Linked DNA regions of Homo sapiens. The protein of the gene in region 1 purifies or fractionates together with the protein of each later gene. This does not show direct contact. Each region holds a gene or a part of one and is shown in the gene's direction. Other genes may lie near its edges.

The links.
Region 2: the proteins of USP5 (region 1) and IPO9 fractionate together in Homo sapiens (co-fractionation; one large-scale study listed by BioGRID). This does not show direct contact.
Region 3: the proteins of USP5 (region 1) and ATP6V1A fractionate together in Homo sapiens (co-fractionation; one large-scale study listed by BioGRID). This does not show direct contact.
Region 4: the proteins of USP5 (region 1) and RAB11B fractionate together in Homo sapiens (co-fractionation; one large-scale study listed by BioGRID). This does not show direct contact.
Region 5: the proteins of USP5 (region 1) and DCTN5 fractionate together in Homo sapiens (co-fractionation; one large-scale study listed by BioGRID). This does not show direct contact.
Region 6: the proteins of USP5 (region 1) and PPP1CB fractionate together in Homo sapiens (co-fractionation; one large-scale study listed by BioGRID). This does not show direct contact.
Region 7: the proteins of USP5 (region 1) and ITM2B purify together in Homo sapiens (co-immunoprecipitation; one large-scale study listed by IntAct). This does not show direct contact.

The regions. Positions count from the first base shown.
Region 1 is NC_000012.12:6,855,150-6,858,649, forward strand, and holds part of USP5 (ubiquitin carboxyl-terminal hydrolase 5), read left to right. Parts: intron 1-205; exon of another isoform or gene 206-251; coding exon 252-377; intron 378-479; exon of another isoform or gene 480-605; coding exon 606-672; intron 673-867; coding exon 868-1,001; intron 1,002-1,155; coding exon 1,156-1,301; intron 1,302-1,557; coding exon 1,558-1,742; intron 1,743-2,479; coding exon 2,480-2,574; intron 2,575-3,274; coding exon 3,275-3,468; intron 3,469-3,500. UniProt on the Homo sapiens protein: Deubiquitinating enzyme that participates in a wide range of cellular processes by specifically cleaving isopeptide bonds between ubiquitin and substrate proteins or ubiquitin itself.
Region 2 is NC_000001.11:201,856,657-201,860,156, forward strand, and holds part of IPO9 (importin-9), read left to right. Parts: intron 1-439; coding exon 440-538; intron 539-1,790; coding exon 1,791-1,897; intron 1,898-2,198; coding exon 2,199-2,338; intron 2,339-3,500. UniProt on the Homo sapiens protein: Nuclear transport receptor that mediates nuclear import of proteins, such as histones, proteasome and actin. Serves as receptor for nuclear localization signals (NLS) in cargo substrates.
Region 3 is NC_000003.12:113,753,535-113,757,034, forward strand, and holds part of ATP6V1A (V-type proton ATPase catalytic subunit A), read left to right. Parts: intron 1-3,500. UniProt on the Homo sapiens protein: Catalytic subunit of the V1 complex of vacuolar(H+)-ATPase (V-ATPase), a multisubunit enzyme composed of a peripheral complex (V1) that hydrolyzes ATP and a membrane integral complex (V0) that translocates protons.
Region 4 is NC_000019.10:8,402,647-8,404,934, forward strand, and holds the end of RAB11B (ras-related protein Rab-11B), read left to right. Parts: intron 1-766; coding exon 767-912; 3' UTR 913-1,788; downstream 1,789-2,288. UniProt on the Homo sapiens protein: The small GTPases Rab are key regulators of intracellular membrane trafficking, from the formation of transport vesicles to their fusion with membranes.
Region 5 is NC_000016.10:23,644,466-23,647,965, forward strand, and holds part of DCTN5 (dynactin subunit 5), read left to right. Parts: intron 1-3,500. UniProt on the Homo sapiens protein: Part of the dynactin complex that activates the molecular motor dynein for ultra-processive transport along microtubules.
Region 6 is NC_000002.12:28,758,330-28,761,829, forward strand, and holds part of PPP1CB (serine/threonine-protein phosphatase PP1-beta catalytic subunit), read left to right. Parts: intron 1-3,500. UniProt on the Homo sapiens protein: Protein phosphatase that associates with over 200 regulatory proteins to form highly specific holoenzymes which dephosphorylate hundreds of biological targets.
Region 7 is NC_000013.11:48,250,206-48,253,705, forward strand, and holds part of ITM2B (integral membrane protein 2B), read left to right. Parts: intron 1-3,500. UniProt on the Homo sapiens protein: Plays a regulatory role in the processing of the amyloid-beta A4 precursor protein (APP) and acts as an inhibitor of the amyloid-beta peptide aggregation and fibrils deposition. Plays a role in the induction of neurite outgrowth.

The DNA.
Region 1 (3,500 bases):
ACGATGAGCTGGTGTTCCTCAGCCCCCTGATGTCCTTGTTGGTTGTTATCAAAGTCATGGGAGGAAATGGGGAGAATCTTAGCTATGTCCCAGGTCCTAAAAGGCTAAATAACTTGCCAAGGGCCACACAGTGTTAGAGAACAGAACATTTCTTCTGGAACCCAGCAGTTTCTGACTCCAGGTTTTGGTTTCCTCACCTGACCAGGCTTCATAACATCCTCGTGTTTTCACCCTTACCTCTTGTCCCACAGGAGTCTGAGGGGGGCCTCTACATCTGTATGAACACGTTTCTGGGCTTTGGGAAACAGTATGTGGAGAGACATTTCAATAAGACCGGCCAGCGAGTCTACTTGCACCTCCGGCGGACCCGGCGCCCGGTAGGAGCAGGGCTGGGGCAAGGCCTGGGTACATTGTCTGTTCCATTCTGACCTCCTATTGGACTCAGTTTCTTTTTTTCACCTACTTTTGTGTCATTAAAGCTTGGCACAGATGTTTTTTAGCTTTATTCCGTTCTGAGATGAAGCACTACCTCCTTCCGTCCCTCCTCCCGACTTGTTCCTTCGCTCGTGCTCATTGCTGATCCAGCCCTTCCTGCTTCTTTACAGAAAGAGGAGGACCCTGCTACAGGCACTGGAGACCCACCCCGGAAGAAGCCCACGCGGCTGGCTATTGGTGAGCACCGCTGCAGTCCTATTCTTCTCCCTGAGCTGGTCTTTCTGGCTCTCAGCAGCACCAGGAAAGCCCCAAAGAGTGGGCCTGATTGATGGCCCTAGAACTCTGGATGGGGCAAGTGAGGTGCTGGCTCGGAGGAGGGACATTGACCTGTTGTCATTGCTCTACTCTCCCTCTTCTTCCCTATCCTTCCAGGTGTTGAAGGCGGATTTGACCTTAGCGAGGAGAAGTTTGAATTAGACGAGGATGTGAAGATTGTCATTTTGCCAGATTACCTGGAGATTGCCCGGGATGGACTGGGGGGACTGCCTGACATTGTCAGAGATCGGGTATGACTGCCCCCTATGCTACCCAAGATTCTAGAGCAAGATGGGCCAGGGTAGTGGTGTCTTAGGCAAGCACTGACAAAGCTGAAGGCCAAGGGGAAGAGGGGCATGTGGGGCAGGGGGTTGGGTATTGCCTCTGACCCTCTGCTTCCCCCAGGTGACCAGTGCAGTGGAGGCCCTACTGTCGGCCGACTCAGCCTCCCGCAAGCAGGAGGTGCAGGCATGGGATGGGGAAGTACGGCAGGTGTCTAAGCATGCCTTCAGCCTCAAGCAGTTGGACAACCCTGCTCGAATCCCTCCCTGGTGAGGCCTGGCCCCTCTGCCTCGGGCACCACCCCCAGAGCAAGGACAAGGAGCCCACTTTTCTGGGGGATCTGGTGGGAGAGAGGGTAGGGAGCAGGACAGGAAGGGAAGCTTGGAAATGAACACGACATGGGGATGGCCAGAGGAGAAGAGAGAGAGACCTTGGATTGGCGGGGGGCCTGCAGAGCCCTCTCTCTCTGCCACTCCCTCAAATCCCCGACCCACATTTCTGCTGATTCTCTTCTCTGTGGGTTAGTGGCTGGAAGTGCTCCAAGTGTGACATGAGAGAGAACCTGTGGCTCAACCTGACTGATGGCTCCATCCTCTGTGGGCGACGCTACTTCGATGGCAGTGGGGGCAACAACCACGCTGTGGAGCACTACCGAGAGACAGGCTACCCGTTAGCTGTCAAGCTGGGCACCATCACCCCTGATGGAGCTGGTACAGCCTCCCCTCCTCCAGCCACTCTCATGCTTAAATATATTTCATTTGTTAGTAATTTCGTGTGACATGTATAATACATGAATGCATTATCTTGATAAGAAAGGAAAGTAGTCAGGTGCGGTGGCTCATGTTTGCAATCCCAACACTTTGGGAGGCCAAGGCAGGAGAATTGCTTGAGCCTAGGAGTTCGAGACCAGCCTGGGCAACATAGTGAGACCTCATCTCTCCAAAAAAGAAAAAAAAAGAAAAATTGGCTGGGTGTGGTAGCTCCTGCCTGTAGTCTCACCTACTCAGGAGGCTGAGGCAGGAGGATTGTTTGAGCACCCGGGAGGTTGAGGCTGCAGTGAGCTATGATTGCACCACTGGACTCCAGCCTGGGCTACAGAGACCCTGTCTCAAAAAAGGAAAATACTGCAGATGAGACTAAATTTTTGATTACTCCCCACTCAAATCCTCATCCCTTTCCTACCAAGCCTGTCTTACCTTATCCTATACAGGTAGAATCAGAATCACAAGTAATTCCAACCCTCACCCGGTTTCATCTGTCTTCCCTGACCGTCAGCCCCAGAAGGGCCATGACCGCACTCATATTACTCATATTCAAGGGAACCAAGAGGGTGGACCTTACTGGCTCTCCTTCTGTCCCCTCAAGTCCCTTCTGTGCAAGGGATGGGATGGTGGCCTGGCTAGTCCTGAGCCACTTCCCCTGATTCTCTTCCTGCCTCCTGCTCTAGACGTGTACTCATATGATGAGGATGACATGGTCCTGGACCCCAGCCTGGCTGAGCACCTGTCCCACTTCGGCATCGACATGCTGAAGATGCAGAAGGTGAGACCCCCTTCAACTTCAGATTCTTCTACTTCCTGCCCCTGTGAGGGCCCTTCCTCTTTGCCTGAGGCTGAGGTAGGGTTTTGGAGAAATCTTCTAGTTAACCCCATCCCCAAGATACACAGGCTTCTTTTAAATATCTAAAATCATTTATTCAGTGAATAGTACTGAGTACCTACTATGTGCTAGAGGCTGTGTGAATAAGACAGATGTGGTTTTTGCTTACAAGAGTTCTACTCTAGAAGAAAAGGCAGACATTAGTCACATTCCCAGATAAATAAGTGAATAGTTGCAAACTGGTGGGCACTGTGAAAGAGAGGCGGAGGGTACTACAGTAATTGACAGCAGGGTGGCCTGGCCTAGTTTAGGGATCAGGGACATTTCCCTGAGGAAGCGATGCTTAACTGACAATGTGAAGGAGGTTAGGGGTAACTTAAGGATGGGAAAAACATTTCAGGTAGAAGGAAATTTTATTCCTCATTCAAGCAGAGGCCCTGATGACTAACGGGCCTCTGGGACAATTATGTGTGGCCTTCCAGAACTTGAACTGGACGATACTCAACATACCTCCCATGTTTGAGCCTGTAATTCCACAAATTCTAGGCCACAGTTGAGTATCATCCTAGACTCAGTGAGAGATCGAGGTAAAAACTACAGGGTTGAGTTTCTCACTCAGTCTGAAGTGCCCCTTCTCACACAGACAGACAAGACGATGACTGAGTTGGAGATAGACATGAACCAGCGGATTGGTGAATGGGAGCTGATCCAGGAGTCAGGTGTGCCACTCAAGCCCCTGTTTGGGCCTGGCTACACAGGCATCCGGAACCTGGGTAACAGCTGCTACCTCAACTCTGTGGTCCAGGTGCTCTTCAGCATCCCTGACTTCCAGAGGAAGTGAGTAGTGCCCTCTCCTTCCCCAGGCCCCC
Region 2 (3,500 bases), on another chromosome or scaffold:
TTTGTTTCAGTTTTTGTTGTTGTTGTTGTTTTGTTTTGTTTGCTTTTTGGGACAGGGTCTTGCTGTTTTGCTCAGGCTGGAGTGCAGTGGTGTAGACAAAGCTCACGGCAGCCTTGACCTCCCAGGCTCAAGCCATCCTCCTGCCTCAGCCTCCCGAGTAGCTGAGACCACAGGCATATGCCACCATGCCCAGTTGACTTTTTTATTTTTTGTAGAGGTGGGGTCTCACTATGTTGCCCAGGCTGGTCTCAAACTCCTGGGCTCAAGCAGTCCTCCCACCTTGGCCTCCCAAAGTGTCAGGATTACAGTTGTGAGCCATTGCATCCAGCAAAAGGCTAGAGTTTTTTCAGGATAATAGGTTGAAATCTTCCTGTATCTGTTGATGAAAAGCTATGAATCAGATTGGCAGCATCACAAAGACATAACTTGATCTTTTCAGATTAAAGTATGGACAGCCAACCCCCAACAATTTGTAGAAGATGAAGATGATGATACATTCTCCTATACTGTTAGAATAGCAGCTCAAGACTTGTTGCTGGTAAGTTTACCTTGATACTTCAGCCACATAATTTCTATCAGTCACTTGAGCATTTCTTCTTTTTTGTAGACAACTAATCCAAGGTGAGCAGTGTTGTTGGGTGGCTTTATCTCAGACTTTATTGGGGATGCAAGAGAGTTTCTGAAATGAAATTCGAGACTCAGAAATTCTAAAATCATTGCTACTGGTTCTAACTTAAAACTAAATATTAGATAAAAGAATTGTGCAGACCATAGGGCCGGGGTGCGGGGGAGAATTGTATAGAGGATAAAGTGTTCCATGGAGTAAGGGTAGTTGAATCAAGAACATTTCAGTTTATGGCTGGGCGTGGTGACTCACACCTGTAATCCCAGCACTTGGGGAGGCCGAGGCGGGCAGATCACCTGAGGTCCAGAGTTCAAGACTAGCCTGACCAACATGGAGAAACCCCATCTCTACTAAACATACAAAATTAGCCGGGCGTGATGGCGCATGCCTGTAATCCCAGCTACTCGGGAGGCTGACGCAGGAGAATTGCTTGAACCCGGGAGGCGGAGGTTGTGGTGAGCCAAGATTACACCATTGCGCTCCAGCCTGGGCGACAAGAGTGAAACTTGGTCTCAAAAAAAAAAAAAAAAGCCATTTCAGTTTAATTCACTCTTCAACAAGAATCTATAGCACAGACAAAAGGTTGGCAAACCTAGCAAAACAAAACAGATTGCTGAAAGATTAACATCCAAATACCTGCTCATGTTTTCTTTGCCTCTTCTGACTAGAGCATAGAGTTGTCTCTAGGCTGAAATACTAAGAAGAAACTGCCACTTGCTTCTTGTTGGGTAGGAGATTTGTTCTCTGTTGATGAATCACTTCTCATTATCATTTAGTATTTCTAAGGAGCTGTGAAAGATTATATTCAGTTCCAATTAGTAGATTAGACTTATTTTTCTATCATCAGTCTCCAAGAGAGCAAATATTTGGTCCATTGTCATCCAAAGCTAGATCTATTATTGCTCACTTATGCTCTGCTGAATATAGCCAAAGGAGCCAACTGGTTAGCCTTACAATGCCTAGGCACTACCGAAATACAGATACTACTTTAATTTCATTAGAGACCCTGACCTACTGGTATAACATTTTTAATACAATTAGGGGTTTGCACATGTATGTGAAAGAGCTTGAACCAATCACTTCTAACAGTCATGACTGAAGCGGTTTACAATTAAAATGCATTTAATGGGCACAAACAGATTTATTAGCTCTTCTCTCTCTATAGGCTGTGGCCACAGATTTCCAGAATGAAAGTGCAGCAGCCCTGGCTGCTGCAGCCACTCGACATTTACAAGAAGCTGAGCAAACCAAAAACAGTGGCACTGAGCACTGGTAAGAGTGAGCCGCTAATTGGTTAAGATGCTTTTGTTTACCCCTTCTTAAAAAGTCTTGAAAGGATGGATTTATTTTTATCTTAATTTGAAAATCTGGTTTTAATTTAATAACAGATTTTAATCTCTTATTATTAAAATTTCACTCTTTTCAGCTATAGGTTAGAATGGAAGGGCTTAAGGTAAATGACTCTTTTGGAAGAGATTGTGCTGGAGTGCCCTTTTCTGAATCTTGTTTCCTCAAATATTTATCTCTTTTGGCAGTTTAGTATGTTTTACTAGGCTGTAGTATCCTTTCACAGGTGGAAGATCCATGAGGCATGCATGCTTGCCCTAGGCTCAGTGAAGGCCATCATCACTGACAGTGTGAAAAATGGCAGGATTCATTTTGACATGCATGGGTTCCTGACCAATGTCATCCTTGCAGACCTCAACCTCTCAGGTATGTTTCAGCACGTGCCAGGATTCTAGAAACTCTTTAAACCTGTTGTGGGGTTGGGGGAGGGATCAGCATTAGGAGATATACCTGATGTAAGTGACAAGTTAATGGGTGCAGCACACCAACATGGCACATGTATACATATGTAACCTGCACATTGTGTACATGTACCCTAGAACTCAAAGTATAATATATATATATATATATATATATATAAAGGAAACTCTTTAAACCTGTCATTAACTTGGTTATATTGTTCACTTAGACTGGTAGGCCAGATATTCTTGTGTCCTTTGAGTGAAAATTGTTTGCACCCTACAGCTTGAACTCATCCGAACCTCTAAAACAGCCCAGAGGCCGATTCAAGCTTCACCTAATGACAATCTAATATTGCCTAGTTCATAATTCTTCCGTGATGTTTATGTTTCTTCCCAAATTGGCGTTCCCATTCATGGTTGTTTTTGGCATTTGAATGGAATCCAAATCTGGTTGCTGTACCTTGAGAATTATCGAGTACTGCTCCCATTGTTAAGTCCAGAATGCCCTCAGGCATTCTGTATCAGGCACATTCTTCCTGTTTGTTTCCTGTCATTTTTCTCAAACTTTATTTTTGGCCAATATCCAAATAATTAAAATGTTCCATTCTCATACCCATGTTAGCCATCTGTCTTAAAAAGAAAAAAGTAGGCCAGGCGCGATGGCTCATGCCTCTAATCCCAGCACTTTGGGAGGCTAAGGCAGGTGACTCACCTGAGGTCAGGAGTTCAAGACCAGCCTGGCCAACTTGGCGAAACCCCATCTCTACTAAAAATATAAAAATTAGCTGGGTGTGGTAGCAGGAGCCTGTAGTCCCAGCTACTCAAGAGGCTGAGGCAGGAGAATCACTTGAACCAGGAGGCAGAGGTTGCAGAGAACTGAGATCACACCACTGTATTCCACCTTGGGTGACAGAGCGAGACTTGGTTTAAAAAAAAAAAAAAGGTAGCCCTTTACTATTAGACCGATTTCTTCCGCAATACAGAGCAGTAGCTGAGAATCATTGTTGTCTATGTGGCATTTTCTGCTACTTGCTTCTGCCATGCCATGCCTTTTCTCATCCTTGGAGCCAGATCACCATCCGAAAACACTGCCTTTGCTTTCTCTCTCAGTACTTAAATCATGGAAC
Region 3 (3,500 bases), on another chromosome or scaffold:
GGAAACAAAGGGAATGCCTGTTAATAGGGGTATTGTTATGTAAATTATGGCCGAGGCATTTTATGGAATGTTGTGAAGTGATTAAATGGTAGGAGTTAAATCTACTGGTGATTAGAAAGGATTTCCAAGTACATTCTGAAAGGATTTCTATCATGTGTCTTTTTTTTTTTTTTTTTCCTGAGACAGGATCTTGCTCTGTTACCCAGATTGGAGTGTACTGGTGCTGTCTTGGCTCACTGCAACTTCCTCCTCTTAGGTTTAAGCTATCCTCCCGCCTCAGCCTCCAGAGTAGCTGGGGCTACAGGTGTGCACCACCACACCTGGCTAATTTTTTGTATATTTGGTAGAGACGGGGTTTCACCTTATTGCCCAGGCCATCATGTATCTTAAGAAAAAAAAATACAAAGTACAGAGAAACATTTGTAATGATAACTCATTTTTTATAAAACCAGTTGAAAAACACCATGAGTTTTGTATATTTTTACCTGGTTGTCACCGTTGGAAAGAGGAAATAAGCAGAAAAGGAAAGAGACAGAATATCCATAGTAACATATTTATATAAAACTACATGTTTGTACATGTCTGTGTATATGATGGATTATGGGAAACAATGGGCACTAAGATGATTTACTTTCTTCCTTACACTTTACATTATATGTTTTTATTTTTACAGTGGACATGAAGTGTTTCTGTAATTAGGAAAAACAGGCTGGGCATGGTGGCTCACGCCTGTAATCCCAGCACTTTGGGAGGCTGAGGCAGGTAGATCGCTTGAGCCCGGTGTTGGAGACCATCCTGGGCAACATGGCAAGACCCCCCTCTACCAGTAAAAACTAAAAATTAAAAAAATTATTTGGGCACGATGGCATGCACCTGTAGTCCCAGCTACTCAAGAGGCTGAGGTGGGAGGATCACTTGATCCCGGGGCATTCAAGGTTTCAGTGAACTGCGAATGTGCCACTGCACTCCAGCCTGGGCGTCAGAGCGACACCCTGTCTCAAAAGTAAGAAAAAAAAAAAGAAAAGAAAAATGTACCAAAAAATGATAGGGACTACTAGATAGGATTACAAATTTGGCATGTTATTTTTGGTATGGATAGTCAGTGCTATCGACACGCTTTCTGCCTTAGAGTGTAGAGCACATTGCACAAGTGTGGGATCTGTCACCTGACTTAATCATATGACAGAATCATAAGAAAAGTCCCTATTTGGGTTTTGGCATATAAACTGGATTACAAGATTAACTTGCCTTAAGAAAACTTTAAACAAGAACTTCTTTAAAGAAGCAAAATAAAAAGTACTTATAATTGTTTAATACTTGATTTCTGTCCTTTTAAAAGTATCTCCGTAGAATACATCATTCAAAGCCTAGACAGAAAATAGCAGATGCTTTAGAGTTGGATTTGTTGCATACTTAAAGTAGCTGTATTTTTTTCTCACATTGGTATTACTTCCCCTTTTCATTACCAGTTTTATTAATTGCATATATGTGCTTTAATGTAAGCTGTCCAAAGTTTTTTTTACAAGAGTTGGGATATATGTAAATAAAAATAATTTTAGAGTAGTATTAATATAACAAAGAGATGAAGGAAACCAGACTGTGTGAGTCAAATCCTGGCTCTGCTTCCTAGTGGTGTGACTTTGGAGGAGTTACTTGTGTCTTTTTGCATTGCATTTTTCTCAACTTTAAAATAAGGATAATAAGAGTATTTAACTTCATTGGATGTTGTGAATAATAGAAGCGATTGGAATAATAACTAGCACATAAGGACCGTATATATATTTGCCAGCTGGGTGCAGTGGCTCACACCTGTAATCCCAGCACTTTGGGAGGCCGATGCAGGCGGATTGCTTGAGCCCAGGAATTGAAGGGCAACATGGCAAAACCATGTCTGTACAAAAAAAAAAAAAAAAAAAATTAGCCAGGCGTGGTGGCACACACATCTAGTTCCCGCTATTCGGGAGGCTGAGGTGGGAGGATTGCTTGAGCCTGGGAGGCAGAGGTTGCAGTGAGCTGAGATCGTGCCACTGCAGACCCTGGGTGACAGAGCCAGACCCTGTCTCAGAAAAATATATATGTAATAATAATATGTGCTATTATTTGCTCAGTCAATTAGGTGCAATATATAATAGTTTTACTTGGCTCAGTTGTTTTAACATTCATTTACTCATCCAACAATATTTTTAATTCAGTTGAATGGGTAATACATGTACAAATATGGTAAAATTTATATATTCATACAAGTGTGTTTTCTCTCCCCTCATCCTTATTCTTTTCTTCCCCCATATATTTATCCACAAATGGTAGCACCTCTTCGTATTATTCTGGACCTTACATTTTTCGCTTGAGTATTACGTTGGAGATCTTTTCACATTGATACAGTTAAAACTGCCTCATTCTTTTTAATGATAGTTTAGTATTCAATTGTATTAATATACCCTCATCATCATATGTAACATTTATTGAGAGCTTACTCCTGATCCAAATGCTTTCTTAATACTTTAGTTTTATTAACTCATGGAAGCCTCATAACAACCTATGAGATAGGCACTATTTTTCTATATTTAACAAATGAGGAAAACTAGGCACGGGATGATTAAATGTCCAACAGTCACACAGTTTATAAGTGGTAGGGCTCAGGATTAGAGCCCAGGGAGTCACTTTCCAGAGATTGCTGCCATAATACCGCTAAACATGTAGCCTGTCATAGTATTACAAGGTATTTAACCAGCCTCCATATTAATGGACATTCCAATCTTTTGCTTAAGAAACAGTGCTATAGTTAATATTTTGTTAATAGAACATTTTGTACATCTACAATAAATTCCTAGAAATGGACTAGCCATGTCAAAGGTAAGTACAATTTGAATTTTGGTGGGCACTGCCAAATTGCTCTCCAATTTAGGGATGTTCAGAAGTTCACCTTTGTCCTTAGTAATTTGCCAAAATCTGCCATTTAGCTTGGGTCTTTGGAAGGTGTGCTTTTAACATTTCTAGCATCCCTGAATTGTGTGTGATCTACCATCATGTAATAGCTTAAGTTACTATCATATGGAATTAATGTAACAATGTCAGTATGAGAGGTGTGACCTTTGGACTTACTACTTTCAAATAACAGTAAGTATTTTAGATATAACTTGAAATACTCCTTAATGTGATTTATACATTGAAATTCTATCAATCGAAGTTTGAATAGATATTGTTGAAAAAGTAAAATGCTGTAATTGTTAATAATTGTGAAGTTGCTGATTTTATGTACCAAAGCAATTATGTAAGAGTGTTCAAATAGTTAAATAGTGAATCAGATTGCATTTGAACATTAAGAGTGTGGTAGCTAGCTAAATAGAGGAATAGCTGGGTCCTTTCTTGTGAAAAGTGAGTTTTTGATAATCCGTGAGTCCTAGTCGTAGGTAATGCAAAATGAGGTAGCGAGGAGCTTTATTTAGATGAGTTATAAAATCCACAAATTATTTTGAATATAACACACTTGGTTTCAGTGC
Region 4 (2,288 bases), on another chromosome or scaffold:
TCGTTTGCTTGTTTTTTTCTTTTTTTTGTCGGGGCAGGATGGATTTTTGCTCTTTGCCCAGGCTGGAGTGTGGTGGCTCGATCTCAGCTTACTGCAACCTCCGCCTTCCAGGTTCAGGCAATTCTCCTGCCTCAGCCTCCCGAGTAGCTGGGATTACAGGTGCCTGCCACCACACCCGCTAATTTTTGTAATTTTTAGTAGAGACAGGATTTCACAATGTTGTCCAGGTTGATCTCGAACTCCTGGGCTCAAGTGATCCTCCTGCCTCAGCCTCCCAAAGTGCTGGGATTACAGGCGTGAGCCACTGCACCTGGCCTGTTTGATTTTTTTCCACCACCACCCCTAACCTTTGCTTTTTAAACCTGCCGGTCCACCTGGACACTTCACAGGGTCAGACCAGGTCTAGCCCTTGCTGGCACTGGGGACACAGAGACCCCCTGGCCCCAGTTCCTGGGGATGGGCCCTGCCTTAACTCTTGGCGCTGCGGGGAGGCGGGTAGCCTCAGGGACCTGGAGCCTTTTGGCTTCTGGGAGTTTACCTCTGAGGGAGGAGGGCGCTTCTGATCTTAGGGAGCGAGAGGCCGGGGCTGGCTGTGACCAGATGTGGGTCCTGGCTGGGTGCGCAGCCCCTGTCCTTGTTACCCCTGATGTGATGGGGGCGCTGTGGGGGTCTGGAGAGGGCCTCTGGAGTCCTGCAGGGAGGGGTTCCCCTCGGCAGGCAGGGCACGTGCTGGCTCACCCCACGTCCCCCTGTACCCCCTTTGCAGAGATCTACCGCATCGTGTCACAGAAACAGATCGCAGACCGCGCTGCCCACGACGAGTCCCCGGGGAACAACGTGGTGGACATCAGCGTGCCGCCCACCACGGACGGACAGAAGCCCAACAAGCTGCAGTGCTGCCAGAACCTGTGACCCCTGCGCCTCCACCCAGCGTGCGTGCACGTCCTCCGCCCGCCCCCGCCACGGTATCCTCTGGCCCCTCCCTGCTGTCCCTCTGTGGCCGGCTCGTTCCAGCCCTCCCAGTGAGCTCTGCACGGCCGGGCCGGGGCCCAGGAAGGACAGGAGCCAGTGCTACCCCGTCCTGCCCGGGGAAAAGCTAGAAGCCCCGGTTTGCTGCACCCATGAAACTCGGGTCCCCACAGCGTCTTGGCGGGGTGGGGAGGGCGGCAGGATGGACGGGGCTGGCCAGAGGCGAGGAGGACGGGCGGACGGCGCCGCCTTCTCCCCTTTTCCTTGGCCGACTCTAGGGAGCGATTGCCTCCCTCCCTCCGTGACCGGGTGGCCCAGCCAGCCCGTCGTCCCCACCCAGAACCGTGCTCTGGGCCAAAGCCCGAAGAACCAGGCAGCGGGGGCCGGGGCAGGCGGACCCCCCGGGCTCTCAGCGCCCACCCGCTCCTCCGCACACAGCAGCTCGCACAGGCCTCCCACCTCTGCCTGTTGATTGATGCAGGGAGAAGCCCGTCCCCCCCTCTCCCCTCTCCCCTCCCCTCTCCTGCACGCAACGCGCCCTCTCGGCCCTCCCTGTCCCCCTCCTCTGTCTCGTCTCCCCATCTGGTCTGGAACCTGTTTGCAAGTGAAGCAATATCTCCGTGTTTTGTATATACAACCGCTCTTGTAGCCTTTGGTTTTTGTTAATGTAGAGAAACACAGATTCTTTATACACTTTGTAAGATTTACGCCAAACCCCAGCTCTCGATCTCTTCTTCTCCCTGTGGCCCCTGCGCTGTTGCCCCGTCCCCGTCACCCCGCCCGTTACTGAAATGTATAATCTGACTTCCTGTACAGAAACCTGCCGCTGCGCCTCTGTCTTCTTTCTTTTCCGCCAGGCGCCAGCTCCTAGGCTGAGGCCCCTCTCGCTGCACGTTCCCCAATGCAGGCCAGACCCCCCGTCTCCCCAGCCCACCCCACAGGAAGCGAGAGGACCCCAGCACCTGCCAAGGGCAGCGTGGAAGTCAGCCAGCGCAGTTGGGGTGGGCCCTGGTCAAGCTGCCCCTGTGGCAGGGAGGGATGGAAGGCTGCCGCTTGTCCTTGACTTTAAACTCCTGGGTCCTAGGACCTCAGGCCTGCGGGCGTCCCCTGATGGGGATGGGAGCCAAGAGCAGTGGCCAGGGTTCATCACTTTGTCTCCTGCCAGGGCCTCCCCTCCCCTGGGGTCCTGACGAGGGTGACTTGCCCAGTGGATGTTGGTGATGCCAGATGTCTCCACCCTAAACTGACACCGGAGGAGGGCCCAGTGGGGAAATGCCAGGGACAGCAAAATGTGTGGCATGGAGTTCCTCTTCCCAGGA
Region 5 (3,500 bases), on another chromosome or scaffold:
AATTTTTTGTATTTTTATCAGAGATGGGGTTTCACCGTGTTAGCCAGGATGGTCTCAATCTCCTGACCTCGTGATCCACCTGCCTTGTCCTCCGAAAGTGCTGGGATTACAGGCGTGAGCCACCGCGCCTGGCCTAATTTTTGTATTTTTAGTAGAGACAGGGTTTCACCATATTGGCCAGGCTGGTCTTGAACTCCTCACCTCAGATGATCCATCCACTTCAGCCTCCCAAAGTGCTGGGATTACAGGCATGAGCCACCACGCCCAGCCCAAGATTTTTTTTCTTATGGTGAACTATGTATAACAATTTGCCATTTTAACAATTTTTTAAAAATTTTTATTATTTGAGACAGTTGCCCAGGCTGGAGTGAAGCGGCGCCATCTCAGTCGCCACAACCTCCGCCTCTTGGCTTCAAGGATTCTCATGCCTCAGCCTCCTGTGTAGCTGGGACTACAGGTGCACGCCACTACACTGGGCTAATTTTTGTATTTTTAGTAGAGGCAGGGTTTTGCCACGTTGGCCAGGCTGGTCTCAAACTCTTGGCCTCAAGTGATCCACCTGCCTTGGCCTCTCAAAGTACTGGGATTACAAGTGTGAGCCACTGCACCCAGCCTAACTATATATATATATATATATATATATATATATATATATATATATATATATATATATTTTTTTTTTTTTTAATACGCAGTTTTGCTCTTGTTGCCCAGGCTGGAGTGCAATGGCACGATCTCGGCTCACCACAACCTCCGCCTCCCAGGTTCAAGTGATTCTCCTGCCTCAGACTCCCCAGTTACAGGCATGTGCCACCATGCCCAGCTAATTTTATATTTTTAATAGAGGCGGGGTTTCTCCATGTTGATCAGGCTGGTCTCGAACTCCCGACCTCAGGTGATCTGCCCTCCTTGGCCTTCCAAAGTGCTGGAATTACAGGCATGAGCCACTGCGCCCAGCCTTACCAATTTTTAAGTGTACAATTAGTTGCATTAATTACATTCACAATGTTGTGCAACCATCTCCACTATCCATTTCCAAAATTTTTTCATCACCCCAAATAAAAACTCTACACATTAAGGAATACACGCCCATTCCCTACTTCCTTCCATTGCTGATAGCCTGAATCTACTTTCTGTCTCTATGAATTTGCCTATTCTGGATATTTCATATAAGTGGAATCATACAATATTTGTCCTTTTTGTCTGGCTTATTTCACTTAGTGTAAGGTTTTCAAGGTTCATCCTTGTTAAAGCACATCAGAACTTCATTCCTTTCCATAGCAGAGTAATACTCCATTGTATGTATATGCCACATTTCGTATAGGCACTTGGATTGTTTCTACCCTTTGGCTATTGGGAATAATGCTGCAGTGAACACTGATGTGCAAGTATCTGTTTGTGTCCCTGTCTTCAGTTTTTTTGAGTATATACCTAGGAGTGTATATACTCAATACTTGATTTGGCAATGTTTGGTATATACAAAAGAGCGTGATTGCTGGGACAAATGGTGAGTCTATGTTTAACTTTTTGGGAAACTGACAAATTTTTTTCCAAAATGGCTGCACCATTTTACGTTTCCACCAGCATTGTGCAGGGTTCCAATTTCTCCACATCTTTACCAACACTAGTTATTTTCTGGTTTTTTTTGGATTATGGCCATCCAAGGGAGTATAAAATGGTATCTCATAGTGGTTTTGATTTGTATTTCCTTAATGACTAATGATATTGAACATCTTTGAATGTTGCTTGTTGGTCATCTGTACATCTTCTTTAGAGAAATGTCTGTTCAGTCCTTTGCCTATTTTTATATTGTGTTGTCTTTTTCTTATTGAGTTCTAGGAGTTCTTTATGCATTCTGGATATTAAACACTTATCAGATATATGATTTGCAAATGCTTTCTTCCTTTCTGTAGATTTTGTGCATCCCTTTGATGCACAAAAGTTTTTAATTTTGAAGTCTGGTTTATCTGTTTTTTCTTCTGTTGCTTGTGTTTTTGGTGTCATATTAAGAATCCAAACTTATGGCCATGAAGATTTACTGCCGTGTTTTCTTCTAAGAGCGTTAATGGTCTTAGTGCTGTGTTTAGGTCATTGATCCATTTTGAGTTAATTTTTTTTTTTGTTTTTTGAGACGGAGTTTCCCTCTTGTCATCCAGGCTGGAGTGCAGTGGTGCAATCTCGGCTCACTGCAACCTCCGCCTCCTGGGTTCAAGTGATTCTCCTCTCTCAGCCTCCCAAGTAGCTGGGATTACAGGCATGCGCCACCATGCCTGACTAATTTTGTATTTTTAGTAGAGACAGGGTTTCTCCATATTGGTCAGGCTGGTCTCAAACTCCCGACCTCAGGTGATCTGCCAGCCTCGGCGTCCCAAAGTGCCGGGATTACAGGCGTGAACCACTGTACCCAGCTTGAGTAATTTTTTTATATGGTTTGAGGTAGGGGTCTAACTTAGTTCTTTTGAATGTAGAAATACAGTTATCCTGGCACTGTTTGTTGAAAATACTATTCTTTCCCTGTTGAATGGTCTTGGCACTCTTCTAGAAAATCAATTGGTCATAGATGAATAGATTTATTTGTGAACTCTCAATTCTATTTGGTTGGTCTGTATGACTATCTTTATGGAACACTGCACTGTTTTGATTACCATAGCTTTGTAATAAGTTTTCTGGTTTTTTTTTTTTTTTGAGAAAGAGTCTCACTCTGTCACCCAGGCTGGAGTGCAGTGGCACGATCTCAGCTTACTGCAACTTCCTTCTCTCAGGTTCAAGTAATTCTCTTGCCTCAGCATCCTGAATAGCTGGGATTACAGGCATGCGCCACCATGCTAGAGACAGGGTTTTGCCATTTTGGTCAGGCTGGTCTCGAACTCCTGACCTCAGGTGATCCGCCCGCCTTGGCCTACCAAAGTAGTGGGATTACAGGTGTGAACCACTGTGCTCGGCCTACTATAATAAGTTTTTAATCATGAATTATGAGTCTTCCATGTTTGTTCTTTTATAAGATTGTTTTGCCTATTGAGGGCTGTTTGCTTTTTTTTTTTTAATTTTTTTTTGGGGGAGGGGGATGGAGTATTGCCCTGTTGCCCAGGCTGGATGCAATGGTGGAATCTTGGCTCACTGCAGCCTCCACTTCCCAGGTTCAAGCAATTGTCCTGCCTCAGCCTCCCCAGTACCTGGTATTACAGTTGCGTGCCTCCATGCCTGGCTAATTTTTGTATTTTTAGTAGAGACGGGGTTTTACCATGTTGGCCAGGCTGGTCTTGAACTCCTGACCTCAGGTGATCTGCCTGCCTCAGCCTCCCAAAGTGCTTGGATTACAGGCATGAGCCACCATGCCTGGCTACCTTTTGCTTTTTAAAGATGTTTAATTTGGCAATATTTTGGGTATACAAAAGAATATATGTGACATATATGTCATAAAGCATAAAATTAAATCAACACCAGTGAACCCTATACCCAACTGAAGAATTGGAACATAATCTGTATACAATAAGTACTAT
Region 6 (3,500 bases), on another chromosome or scaffold:
ATGTTAAGATTCTTAGAAATACTGACTTAAATTCTGTTATGTATTTCTGAAAGGTTATTCTCGAATGTTGGTGGCATATAGGGAGGCAAGGGGAAGAAATAGTTTGTAAATGTCAGTAGGTTTAGCAGTGGTGTGGTAGATGGGGATTCCCAGTGGAGTCTTCTAGGATTTGTGATTGGATACAGATTGATACCCTTAGGCAGCAGCCACTGCTTCTAGCAGCTTTAAATAGCCATTTCAAGGCTTATTCAAGTATAAATAACCAGTAGCCAGTTTTTTCCTGATTTGATAGAGGAAGTCAGTCCTTGGTCTAGATGGGTACTTGTCATACAGTAGGAAAAAGGGCGGGGGCAGTTGTCCTTTATTCTGCCTCTGCACTATTCACATGTGGAGCACAGTGATTTGTGAGAGTATGTATAACCTTCGTGAACATCACTGGCCTCAGAACCCTCCCTTGCCAAATTTACCTGCATCTGTGCAAAGACAAGTGGAGATATTGATGATATGTGCATATCCCAGAGGGAATAGCGTTTGCTTTTTGATGCATGCCCACCCTTGCATAATTGGGAGGTTTTAACATAGCATATTTCACCATAAAGGAATTTTATTCTAAGAATGTTAATCAGAATATCCCTAAGTAACAGAAGTTCCCATCTGGTCAGTTGCAAGGTGACCAAAACACTTTCTTGGTTTGAGTATAGTCATATGTTCTGTCAAATGATGTTTTGGTCAACAGTGGACTTCATGTAAGGTAGTTAGTGGTCCTGTAAGATTAGAATGGAACTGAGAAATTCCTGTCACTTAGTGACATCATAGGCATAATGTCATAGTGCAATGCATTACTCTTGTTTGTGGTAGTGCTGGTGTAAACCTATTGCACTGCCAGTTGTGTAAAAGTACAACAGGCCACGCGTGGTGGCTCATGCCTGTAGTCCCAGCACTTTGGGAGGCCAAGGCAGGTGGACCACTTGAGGTCAGGAGTTCGAGACCAGCCTGGCCAACATGGTGAAACCCCATCTCTACTAAAAATACAAAAATTAGCTGGGCTTGGTGGCATGCATATGCCTGTAATCCCAGTTACTCAGGAGGCTGAGGCAGGAGAATCACTTGAACCTGGGAGGTGGAGGTTGCAGTGAGCAAAGATTGCACCACTGCTCTCCAGCCTGGGCGAAAGAGTGAGACTGCATCTCCAAAAAAAAAAAAAAAAAAAAAAAAAAGTATAACACAATTATATAGAGTACATAATACTTGATAATGGTAATAAACAGCTATGTTATATATTTACCTTTTTTTTTTCTTTTTTTTGAGACAGAGTTTCGCTCTTGTTGCCCAGGCTGGAGTGCAGTGACGCGATCTCAGTTCACCACAACCTCTGCCTCTCAGGTTCAAGTGATTCTCCTGCCTCAGCCTCCTGAGTAGCTGGGATTATAGGCGTGCACCACCACACCTGGCTAATTTTTTGTATTTTTAGTAGAGACGGGGTTTCACCGTGTTAGCCAGGATGGTATTGATCTCCCGACCTCAGGTGATCCGCCTGCCTCGGCCTCCCAAAGTGTTGGGATTACAGGCTTGAGTCACTACGCAGGGCCCTGGAATATATTCTTATTTTAAAAAACTAGTTAAAACCGACTCAGGCATGTCCTTCAGGTGGCATTCCAGGAAAAAAAGCTTCGTTATCCTGGGAGGTGATGGCTCCATGCATGTTACTGCCCCTGAAGACCTTCCAGTGAAGATGTGGAGGCGGAATATAGTGTTACTGATGATCCTGACTCTGTAGGCCTAGGCTAATGTGTGTGTATATGGCTTAGTTTTTAACAAAAGTTTAAAAAGTGAAAAATATTTTTAAAAATAGGAAAAGGCTTAATAGGATAAGGATATAAAGAAAATATTGTACAGCTGTATGATATGCTTTTGTTTTAAGCTAATCGTTACTAGAAAATTCAAAATGTTTAAAAATTTTTTTAAGTTTCTAAAGTAAAAAATGTTAAGTAAGCAAAGGTTAATTTATTCTTGAAGAAAGAAAAATATTTTTATCTTTATTACTGTATATACATTGTGCCTTTTCTGTGTTTAGATATGTTTAGATATACAAGCACATTGTGTTACAGTAGCCTGCAGTATTCAGTACAGTAACATACTGTGCATCATGCTTTGTAGCCTAAGAGCAATAGACTATACCATCTAGGTTTGTGTAAGTCCACTCTGTGATGTTTGCACAACAACAAAATCACCTCACTGTGCATCTCTCAGGAAGTTTCCCTTTGGTAAATGATGCATAACTGGACTTGTCTGACACCATTTTAACCTTCCCCCTAGTCCTACCTCTCATTCTCAAGATTTGGAGAAATCAAAATCTAAGTTTTCATAATAAAAGGTTAGGTATATTGGGTGTTACATAGCTTTCACTAATGTCATATCTAGCAGTTGTAATCACGTATTTTAAAACTTTAAATAGTAAATTAAGAAGGAATCTTTATAGGTACTTGTATGTTTCCTCAATGTGGTTTGAATTGAGCGTTTTATTTAAATTACTATCAAATACTTGAGCCAAACTAGCGAGACAAAAAGACCAGACCTTTTCTTTTTTCCGAGATGGAGTCTCACACTGTTGTCCAGGCTGGAGTGCAGTGGTGCAGTCTCGGCTCACTGCAGCCTCCGCCTCCTGGGTTCTAGCGATTCTCCTGCCTCAGCCTCCTGAGTAGCTGGGATTACAGGCGCCTGCCACCATGCCCAGCTAATTTTCTGTATTTTTAGTAGTAGAGATGGGATTTCACTAAATCTCGAACACCTGACCTTGTGATTTGCCCACCTTGGCCTCCCAAATTGCTGGGATTACTGGGGTGAGCCACCGCGCCCGGCCGAGACCAGACTTCTGAGGGGGAGAAACTTGCAAACCTGTCAGTGAGAAAGAGTGAGGTCTGATTTTAGATGACAGAAAGGAATAGCTTTTGTGAATTTCGGACTCCCAACTACTAGAATTATGTGAATCCTGAATGATAATCAGATGTTTACTCAGTTAAGTGTTTACTCAAATATTAATAAGTATTGATACATTGGGATGCCATCTTATATAATGATTAACGACACAGATTCTGGGTGTATTTCAGCCCCAGTTTCTTCTGCATATATGATAGTAAGTGCCTTCAAACAATTCTTGACACATTAAAGGTCAGAAAATGTTAGCCGTCATTATTGCTTAGTACAAACCTGAGCTAGGAAATACTAACAGAGAGCTCTTTGTGCCACTGAGTCCTGGAACTTCCCCATACTAATTTTGAGAAGGCTTTCTTGTAAGTATGTGACAGATACTGTTTCCTCCACTTTCTGTTTATTGCATATAACCACTATTCTTGTATGTAAGTACGTATAACAGTTTCTTTACTATTCCCATTATTCAGCGTTTATAATCTGGTTTGACATATCAGTGTTGGTGCTGAGAGGGAAAGGTATTTCTAGGTAGGATAAAATGGTGAAAAGTGATTTAACACTGTTGTATGCTT
Region 7 (3,500 bases), on another chromosome or scaffold:
CCACAGTTTGTTTTACGTTATGAATTATGTTGCATCTCTCCCTTCCCTTATTATCACGCTGGCTGCTGGTATAACTTTTATGAATCATAAAAAATTAAATAACCAGGCTTTTTAAAAAAATAGATCTAAGTTGGCCGGGTACGGTGGCTCAAGCCTGTAATCCGAGCACTTTGGGAGGCCGAGGCGGGTGAATCACGAGGTCAGGAGATTGAGACCATCCTGGCTACACGGTGAAACCCTGTCTCTACTAAAAATACAAAAAATTAGCCGGGTGTGGTGGCGGGCGCCTGTAGTCTCAGCTACTCGGGAGACAGAGGCAGAAGAATGGTGTGAACCCAGGAGGTGGAGCTTTCAGTGAGCTGAGATCGCGCCACTGCACTCCAGCCTGGGCAACAGAGCGAGACTCCATCTCAAAAAAAAAAAAAAGATCTAAGTTTTATTCACTCATCAAATATATGAGTGCCAGCTAATGCCAAGCCTAAGCTTGGCTTGGAGCTACCAGTAATGCAAAATGAATATGAATGGATACTTAAAAGATCTTATAGCCTAGTAGAGAGAGATAAGATCTTTATGTGAATTATTCTCATGAAAGAAAAGTGATAATTAGGAATTTAGAGAACAAAGATTAGATAGACTTTGAAGATTAAACAGCTCTTCTATGAAGTACATGATGGTGGTGCATAGGTTTGGGGTCTATAATTTGGCTGACCAAAGACTCTTGTTTATTTCCTGATTCTTAAGCCACGTTTCACGTTGTTGAGGTGCTGAATAAATTGACCTGTGGATAAGTGAAGTATTTGTAAGTGAAATTCCTCAAGAAATTGAATTTTAAAAAAATATTCAATAGTGCTGAGAAGTGATTTTTGAATGAACATGAGAAGTCAAACTCTAGCATGGTTTACAAAGGTCTTTTGTGACCTGCACCAGCTTCTTGTCCATCATTTCTCATACTCATCTCCACCATATTGGGCACTCCAGCCAAAGCACATGTGGCTCTTGGAAATGTCATGCATTTTAGCTCCATAAATTTTGAAAAATCATTGCCATATATAAAATTTCCTTTAACTCTATCTTCTGCTGAGGTAATGAGTATTTGTCCTTTAACATTCCACTAAAGTATTTTCTCCCTTGGGAAGTCTTCCTGAAACTCATCCCCTCTTATGTGCTCTCTGTGCATTTTCCTATTAGAGTTTGTATCATATTTATTTTCTTTTTGTATATTTATCTGTTTTCCGGACTGATCTAACAGGTCTCTTTCTTGGCAGAGCATACATTTCCAGTGCCTAGCACAGCTCTTGGCACATAGTAGACATTTATAATTTATTCTCAAAATGATTGTTGAACAGTTAAAAATGATATATTACAATGCCTTGAAACTTGTCATCAATTTGCCAGTTGGGGCTGCGTATTCTTTTACAGATGTCTGCCTGTGCTGTTTGGCTATTCATTTATGTACTATTGGAAGAGAAAGCCTGCCAAATGGGGTGGGTGTGTGCGCACATTTGGCTGTCCCAGCAGCTGATACCAAATGTTGGAAATAACTATTTCCATCTGTCATTTTCATCCCCCCCACTCTCCTTCCACTCTAAAATTAATTATGTTAGGAATGATTTCTTACCTCCTTAGATATTTATGTCAGACAAGGGCTCAAGCAAAAGATGTATACTTCGTCATTAAAGTTTCATAATACCTTATGACTCCATGGAATTCTTGTAGCTTTCTTTTCACAGCTGGGATATCTTACATGGCTTGCTAAATTCTTCAGACTTATTCTCATTACATACTTTTCTTCCTTGCAATACGCTCATTGTCTTTCACACATAGTATATTGACAAGTGCTACAGAAACCATGACATTCTCATAGCAATGCACTGATTCTTAGAATACACATTGTTTGTTGTTCAGTGTTAAATTCTATGTTTGAAATCTCAACCTAGGAACACACTGTATCGTATCACATTGTTCTTGGTTGCTTCAACATCTGGGATTAGACCTTTTTCAGTTGTATCATGTTAAAGTTCCTCATTTTAGAATTAAAAACATATAATCTTAGGTTTCATTCGTAACTGAATTCTTGCTTCAACCAAATCTATGTTCTAATACCGGGGTCCCCAACCGCCAGGCCACAGACCAGTACCGGAACTGGTCTTGGCTAGGAACTTGGCTGCACAGTGAGCATTGCTGCCTGAGCTCCGCCTCCTCTCAGATCAGCGGGGGCATTAGATTCTCTTAGGAGCGCAAACCCTATTGTGAACTGTGCATGTTAGGGATCTAGGTTGTGCGCTCCTTATGAGAATCTAATGCCTGGTGATCTTCTGAGGTGGAACGGTTTCACCCCGAAACCATATCCCAACACCCCTCAGTCTGTCTGTGGAAAAATTGTCTTCCACAAAACTGGTCCCTGGTGCCAAAAAAGGTTGTGTAGTGCTGTTCCAATGACCGATCCTGTTTTTGTGCATCATTCATAGTTTTTCTTTCTAATTTTATATCCTATTATATAGGTTTAGGTGAAGTCTGCTTTCTGCCTTAAGCCTACTCCATAGTGGGTTTTCCAAGTAAAGGACAGAGTCATGTACTTCAAAGAGGCTGTTCATGTATACTATGAATTTTTGCAGTCTTTACTATTTATTGAGTGACTACTTATTTAAGTATCTTTGTTTTCTTAGCTCTTTGCACATGAACTTGGGTACAAATCAGAAATTTGCTGTAATTCTAAAGTGACAGATTAGAGGGATCAGGTTAGAAGGGCACAGGGAGGGAATATCTAGGAATTATGAATGTCATGACCCCAAATAATGTTCTAATGCTAAATTGTTTTCTTAAGTGGATAGAAATGAAAATTTTATAAAATTCTGTGCTAGTTTTGTTTCTTGAATTTATCAGTAAATTTTTATCATTGAATATGTTCTCATTTTTTTCTACTGCTTCTATCTTTAAAAGAAAGTGAAGAATTTTATCAGACCATGGTTTAGGGTAGAGCAGTGGCATAATAGGATTATGTATTTCTATGTATATAATTTTGTCCTATTTTTTGAAATTCTAATTGTTTAAATAATTTTAGTATCATTGTTTGTTCTTTTCCTTATTTTCCTGTAATTTTTTCTTGTGGATGGTTTAGAATAGTTTTATACCTGGTATGAAATATAAACCACCTGTAGCAGGCCTAACACATAATTTCATAAATGATCAGATAGAGAGATGCCCTGGATTTATAATGTACAAGGCTCATCATCATATTATGTGACTAAGTTGTAGCATAACCTCTTCTAAATTATTAAATTATAGAATATATCACCAAAAGTTGTGCATGGAAAGTAAAAATTATGGAGTGTATCATTGCTTGAGGCAGGGTTAGCAGGTAGGGTGTTGAGATTAGAAGTAGACAACTCTCCTAGAGACCAATGTCCCAGTCCAAGAACCATTAAGATGAGCCCTGGAGCTACCACTTAATCATTCCTGGGTTGATTTTGATGAGAGACACAACTCCTTTGGTCTTTGTG